2 linked regions of the Homo sapiens genome follow. The gene in region 2 interacts genetically with the main gene of each other region. Each region holds a gene or a part of one and is shown on either strand. Other genes may lie near its edges.

The links. Genes that interact genetically often act in the same process or in processes that back each other up.
Region 1: changes in KRTAP4-2 (region 2) and ETAA1 are lethal when combined (synthetic lethality), as found in Homo sapiens cells (one large-scale study listed by BioGRID).

Annotation. Positions count from the first base shown.
Region 1 is NC_000002.12:67,407,333-67,409,960, reverse strand, and holds part of ETAA1 (ewing's tumor-associated antigen 1), read right to left. Parts: intron 51-2,628; coding exon 1-50. UniProt on the Homo sapiens protein: Replication stress response protein that accumulates at DNA damage sites and promotes replication fork progression and integrity.
Region 2 is NC_000017.11:41,175,863-41,180,385, forward strand, and holds KRTAP4-2 (keratin-associated protein 4-2), read right to left. Parts: upstream 2,360-4,523; 5' UTR 2,303-2,359; coding exon 1,892-2,302; 3' UTR 1,584-1,891; downstream 1-1,583. UniProt on the Homo sapiens protein: In the hair cortex, hair keratin intermediate filaments are embedded in an interfilamentous matrix, consisting of hair keratin-associated proteins (KRTAP), which are essential for the formation of a rigid and resistant hair shaft through their extensive disulfide bond cross-linking with abundant cysteine residues of hair keratins.

The sequences.
Region 1 (2,628 bases), on a different chromosome or scaffold from region 2:
TTTTCTCTGAATTTCTTCAGGAGAACACTTTCTATTTTTCTCTTCTTCCTCTAAAAATTCAACAAAAGATGAGTTTTACTTTTATAGCCTATAAAGTCATTCAATATGTGCTTTAATTTTTGCTTTTTTTAATCACCCAGATTTGCCATATTAGTTGGCTATTAAATCAAACTAAACTACTGAATATAAAATTCTAAGTACATAATACAGATATAATGCTCCAGTTCAAAAGAAAATCAAGCACTGATGGATCTGTCTCTATTTGATACATTCTTTTCACAGTGTGATAAAATTCAGTTTGATAGAAAACTGACTACCCACCAAATAATTCTTGTGGACAATGACATCTAATTTATATGACCCACGAATAAATATATCTTTAAAAAGGATACATTGGGATTTAAAATGTTATGTAAACTTTAATTGGAAAATAGTCAAAATATAAGGAATTAAATTAGTTATCAATCTCAAACAGTGTATATTTACATAAGATGTTATATTAATATTCACATCTACTTTTCCCTATAGAGCTATAAAATTTTCATTTCATCCACTGAGGAAATATATTTTAGAGTGATAAAATGAAATCTGTCATGTCAAACTGGTTACCTGTGATTCACTGTCAGAAATTATATTTTTATTTGGAGGATGCATTTTGGAGAAACTTTAAAATAATCTCAATTAACTTAGTAAGTTGAGGCTTTGTATTAGAAATCACTTTCTCATTTAAATGATATTTTAAGTTTAAGACTATCACCCTAATACATATTTAAGTATATCATTTATTCTGACATTTAGAAAAAGATACACAATTTATGAGACATTTCTCTTGTTAACTAACAGAGGCATTTTCAAAATATATAATCTGCCTCCCTTTCCTTTCTTGGTATAATCAGAAATGGGAGGGGGTATTCAGGCTAAGAAATACATATTTTAAATAAGTTTCCCAGATGATTTTGATGGCTTTTATTTCCTAAGCTATTTACCTAACAGACTGTAGATATTTTTTCCTAAAGAGAGACACCAGAAGATACTTTCTAATTAGCTTGACTAATTATCTAATACTTTTAGTCTCAAAGCTGAGAAACACAACAAACTCAGACTACACATCCAAAGACTTTACACTGAATTTGACTGTGTGGAAAGAAAACAGGTTAATAATCTGTAACAGCAGAAAACATAACTTCCTAAAGTTGGTCTTACAATTTGCTTGGCAATATTATAGAAAATAATTTCAAATGATAATCAGGTCACACCATGAAAATTTGATTTAGGGACTCATCCATTTTTCCCATCAGTCTTTCCTTTAACTCAATCTATAATAAAAATACACAATGAAGTCTTAAAATATTGTAAAGTACTAAGCAAAAGCTGCTCTTCTTAATCTTGATCTTACAGTGCAAGGGTCAGTAATTTTTTTTTTTCCTGTAAAGAAAGAGTCAGAAAGCAAGAATGTTAACCTTTGAGTATCTTGTTGCAACTGCTCACCTGTACCACTGTAGCAAAAATAGTTATGGATAATGTATAAATAACTGATGAGCTGTATTCAAATAAAACCTGTTTATGGACAATGAAATCTGGATTTCATATAATTTTCAAATGTCATGAAATATTATTCTCCTTTTAATTTTTTTCCAACCATTTAAAATGTAAAAATCATTTTTAGTGTGCTGGCTATACATAAACAAGCTGCAGGCTGGATTTGGACAGATCATAGTTTGCCAACTCCTGCCTGAAATAAATGTGGGAGTTAAGTGAGTTTTGTTTCAGAGATACTTCCCTGGAGAGCAGCTTGCTACATACCAAAGTAAAAGGAAGTAGAAACAATAGAAAACATCAACAAAGTTAATAGTAATTAAGAGATTCAGTACTATCAATAAGTTTAAAGAAAATATTGATAAGGTAAGCTAAAACGCAGATTATCCATAAAAAATGCAGATAGATTGGTAGATAGGAGTTTTGGGAAAACTCAAATACTCCAGGAGGTTTAGTCTTTTATAGAATTATAACTATAGTTGACCCTTGAACAACATGGGCTTGAACTGGCAAGTCCACTCATTTGTAGGTTGTTTTCTGCATCTGACACCCCTGAGACAGCAAGACCAACTCCTACTCTTCTTCCTTCTCGGCCTACTAGACATGAAGATCATGAGGATGAAGACCTTTATGATGATCCACTTTCACTTAATGAATAGTAAATATTATTTTCTCTTCCTTATTTTCTTAATAACACTTTTCCAGCTTATTGTAAGAATACAGTATATAATACATATAAGAGCATACAAAATATGTATTAATTAATTATGTTATCGGAAAGGTTTCTGGTCAACAGCAGGCTATTAGCAGTTAAGTTTTTAGGGGATCAAAAGTTATACACAGACTTTCGACTGCAAATCAGATCAGCGCCTCTAACCCCCACACTGTTCAAGGGTCAACTCTATCTGTAAATAAAGTCATGCTAGGAACATGCTTGATTTAGTTACAATATGCTCACTTTAATACAAATTTAAATACTTAAAATTATTATAGATTGAGAACAATTTTTAATATTTCAAAATATCTAGTTTGGGCTATCATGTAAAGCAAGCTTGTCCAACCCGCAGCCCGCAAGCTACCCGCAGCCCAGGA
Region 2 (4,523 bases):
TGAGCAAGTTCAAGGGCTCAAGCCTGATAAGGACACAGTAACCAAGGCTTAGAGCTCTCAGGATGAGGACTCGGGTTACCCTACCAAGCAAGTGACCTAGACCAGAAGCAGGGGTGCCCATGACCCCTCCTCTCATACGTTTCTCTAGAAACTGTGACCAACCAGTTGGAGTGAGCCTAATGAGAGAAACAGCTGCAGCTGAGCAGTGCCAGAGGTGGACTACAGGGCTCCCTATCCTGATCCCATTTACCAGAAAGATACCCCCATCCCCAAGCTAGTGTAAGTAGGACAGCCAGCAGCTCCCTTTGTTCACCTGCACACTTCTCCAGATAGTTGTCCTCAGCTTACAGGAGCCACCTCATCTGGAGGATTCCGCCCTCTTCGCATCCTCTTCCTCTCCCACAGGGTGGGCCATAGCTAGTGGTAACTGATGTAGGATTGTAAAGTTCCAACGACCTTACCTCTCAGAAAGATGGGTCTGTAATACCATTCACACTCTAGAGCTTCCTGTGGGGTCAAATGACAATAAAATCCTTTTGGGCTTAGCCTCTTCTACAATCCTATTCTGTTTCCGACATTTCCTTACTGATTTCTCCTGAGAGCATTTTCTTATAAAAGTCACTTGTGCAAACATCCTGTTTTAGATCTTTCTTTGGTGCCTCCAACTTAGCAGCATGGCTCAGGGTGAAACCTTTTTCAATATAGCCTTTTTTAGGATGAGAATCACCAACACGGTGGTTGTGTCCTATCCCTCAGATAAAACGATGTGAAGAAAAAAACAATCAAAGACAACTAGTTTAAAAGCAAACATGCATATTGAAATAAAAACTTTAAAAATTAAAATTCTTAAAAGAAGACCAAAAAAGTAAATGAACAAATAATAGAAAAAAATTGTAATGCGCAAAAATTGAAAAGAAAAAAAACAGCAAAATGTTCAGAGGTGTCCATTCAGGTGACAGTAAACTCAAGAGTTGATCAAAATCTATGGTAACCATTCATATTGTACAAAAACATTTTGAAGGACACTAATACTGAGATTAGGAATGCTGCTGTTTTAGATTGTGTGCTCTCTGGGGCAAACCCACAAAAGAGGATCTGAGAACATGTGGTATATTTGGACGATTAACCCAAGAAACACTGGAGGAAACTTGAAGAATGACCCTGGGAAGGAGGGAAAGTCATTATAGAGTGAGTTCATGATCAGAATGTTCCTGCAGGCATCTGGTATAAATCCCGCTGAAGACCTCTGGAAGACTGGTTTGACATACCCCCCACTGGAGGGAAACAAGCCAGGGCATATATTACCAACTCCCACTCATTCTCTGAGTGCTGTTCCTAGAGGCTTTAAGTCTCCAGCCCAGAGTTTGCTCCTTTATCCAGAGAAAGTCCTCAGGTAGAGAGTTCCAGGTGCCTGCTCTAAGGAACCATTTTCCTATGTTTGAATGGAGAGTGCTGATAGGATAGAGGTGGAGCCCCTGATATCATCTGCTGTGGTCTTCTCCCTCTGCAGGGAAGAACATCAGAAAATTTGACAGGTAAGGATGAGAATTCAAGAAGGAAAAATGAGACACAATGCCCGTATATTATTTGTATGCCTCAAAAATTAAAATTTATTTAAGATAGAGGAATAGCTCCATGTGATAAATTATGGTAGAGAGCAAATATTTCAATTCAGGGAACATGGGGTTGACATATTTCAGAGAAAATTCAAACTTGTATTCATTTGGTAGAGGGTAGCAACATAGTGTTTGGTGAGCATATTTGGAGGCCAAACTCAATCCAAGAATTGGTTGGAACTGAGGTTGTCCAATTGGCCTTGCATGATTCAGTTCACAGGTGGATCATATCAAGAATGCTGGTTAATAAAGGCAGGTGAGTATAGGTGAGGGCATCAGCAGCAAGAGCCACTAGAGCAGGTTGGGCGGCAGCAGGTGGACACACAGCAGCTGGGGCGGTAGCAGGTGGTCCTGCAGCAGGTGGTCTGGCCACAGCTGGGGCGGCAGCAGGTGGGCTGGCAGTACACAGACTGGCAGCACTGGGGTCTGAAGCAGCTGGACACACAGCAGCTGGGACGGCAGCAGGTGGTCCTGCAGCAAGTGGTCTGGCAGCAGCTGGGGCTGCAGCAGGTGGGCTGGCAGCACACAGACTGGCAGCACTGCGGTCTGCAGCAGCTGGACACACAGCAGCTGGGGCGGCAGCAGGTGGTCCTGCAGCAGGTGGTCTGGCAGCAGCTGGGACGGCAGCAGTTCTCTAGGCCACAGCCCTGGTCAGAGCACACAGAGCCACAACAGGAGTTGACCATGGTGTCAGAGGGTGGAGGTTCTGGGTGGATTTCCAGGAAGGTGGGTTTGGAAGGTTTGGAAGTTTCCTTGCCCCAGATCCTCTTTTATACCCTGCTAAGGCCTGATGTCATCAGATGCAACACTCTTTCCTTGTTATTATTTGTCCTGATATGTAGGCAATTATCAAATTAGGCAAGTTTGTTGTTCTGGTTAACTTATCCACATAGATGGAAACACTGTCTCCTTTCCCTAATGTGTTAGGACTCCTTAGCTCAGCTCTTCCTGAACCACCTCCTGTGTCTCTCTTACTATAGCTTCCTCCTAGAGCAGCCATGTGACATCTGCCTGTAAGCACATACTATGTGCTTCAGTCTCATTTGCTTAACACATCATGACTACTCTTGGGTGATTACTATTCTTACAGGCCCTTGACTCTTTCTGGTGACTCAGGAGGATAAAGCTGCATTTCAGTCTGATGGCTCCTTCATTATGGGTCAGATGGCCTGTGAAGGTTTCAGTGTGAAACAGATTTCAGTGTGAAACAGATGACCACTGGTGTGAGAACGAGAACACCGTAGGACCTATCGCTTTTTTATCTTCCGCACTCTGAATTGTGACCCATTTTCTAGACCTTCTGATGAGAAATACAGAGCTGTTTTAAGGTGGAAAACTAAGCTGTGAAAGTTTGATGTTTCCTTTTCTACAGAAACAACCCTCCAAAATTCAGATTCAGGGCCTCTTGGGGAATGTTGGCTTCAGAGAACAGCTATACTTAAAGGTCCAAGTCCCTCATTTTTTTGCTCCCTGGGGCAGATTTTCCTTGTGACTTTGCCTTTCTGCCTTCCTAGCTCTAACAGGGCACATGAGCTCATCTCTCCAGGTTCCAAAATTTTCTGGCCAACCCAAATTAGATGACTCAGTATCCTTTGCTTGCTCTAATTCGCTCCCAGCCCTCTTGCTTTCTCTGCTGAATTGCTGGGCCTTGAAGATGTCCTATACTCTGCTGCTTCCTTATAGAAGTTGTTGATCCAATTTCACACTTTACATCTTTGTTTTCAAAAAATAAATCAATAAAGAGAGAAAGAAAGCAGAAAACAGGTATCAAGAACAAAGGATATCAGCCTATATTTTTTCATGTAGGGATGGCTGACTATTGTTTCAAAAATGTGCTATGTTGTCAATTCATTAACTCATCAGTTAATAAATATATATGTATTTCCCCACCCCTGAGGAGTCAAGGAACCCAGGGAAGGGGGTGGAAAAATGTCTGACTTACCATGATAGAAATGTTTTATGAACTGGGCAGCCTCTGCAGATAATCAGGGGAGGAGTTTCAGTGTAAGCTGGTGTTTCTGAGGGAGATCCAAGAACCAGATGGAGGGGATTGGATGAATGAGGGAGATTCCCTTTCTTCTCTCAGGTGCTTATAAGTCTAATAAATCAAATTGTGGTGTTCTTATGATGCTGCTATGTTCCAAGCCAGTTCCTACTCCTGCCCTGGCCCTAATTTCCAGGTGATTCAAGCAGAATGAAAACAACTTGGGCTCCCAAGTGAACCCCTGCTTGGTGCGCTGGCTGGTGTTCTGAGCCTGCACTGTTCTCTGGCTCTGATGTACCCAGACATCATATTTTATTGAGGGATGAAAGTGGGTTCCATGATGCTGTGGAATTAAGACCCTGTGAGCCCCATGGTGGTGTACGAGAACAACTCTAAGATTTCCAGGAGACCTTGTATTCTGGAAAAGAATCGTGCCCTTGAGAAGCCGTGACGATTGGTGCCTGCTGATGATTCAGTAGAGATCACTTTATATTAACTATTTTTCTTCATGATGTGAGTGTGTGTGAGTGTGTGTGTGTGTGTGTGTGTTTTCCTTAAGATAAATTTACATTATATTTAGGAATCTCTCACGATTTCTTCTAGTACTTTAACAATTTCATTTTTTCTACCTCTACTCAGCTATAATTGAAATATAAAATTGTATGTATATAAGGTGTACACCCTGATGCTCTGATATGTATATATTGTGAAATTATTGTCATGATCAAATTAGTTCACCTCCACCACTTCACATAGTTACCATTTTTTGAGTGTGTGTAGTGAGAACATTTTAGATCTAGTCTTTCAGCAAATTTTAAATATACAATACAGTGTAATTAACTACAGTGACCATGCTGTACATTAGATCCTCAGAACCTATTCTTCTTATAAATGAATATTTTCTCCCTTTGACCAACATTTCC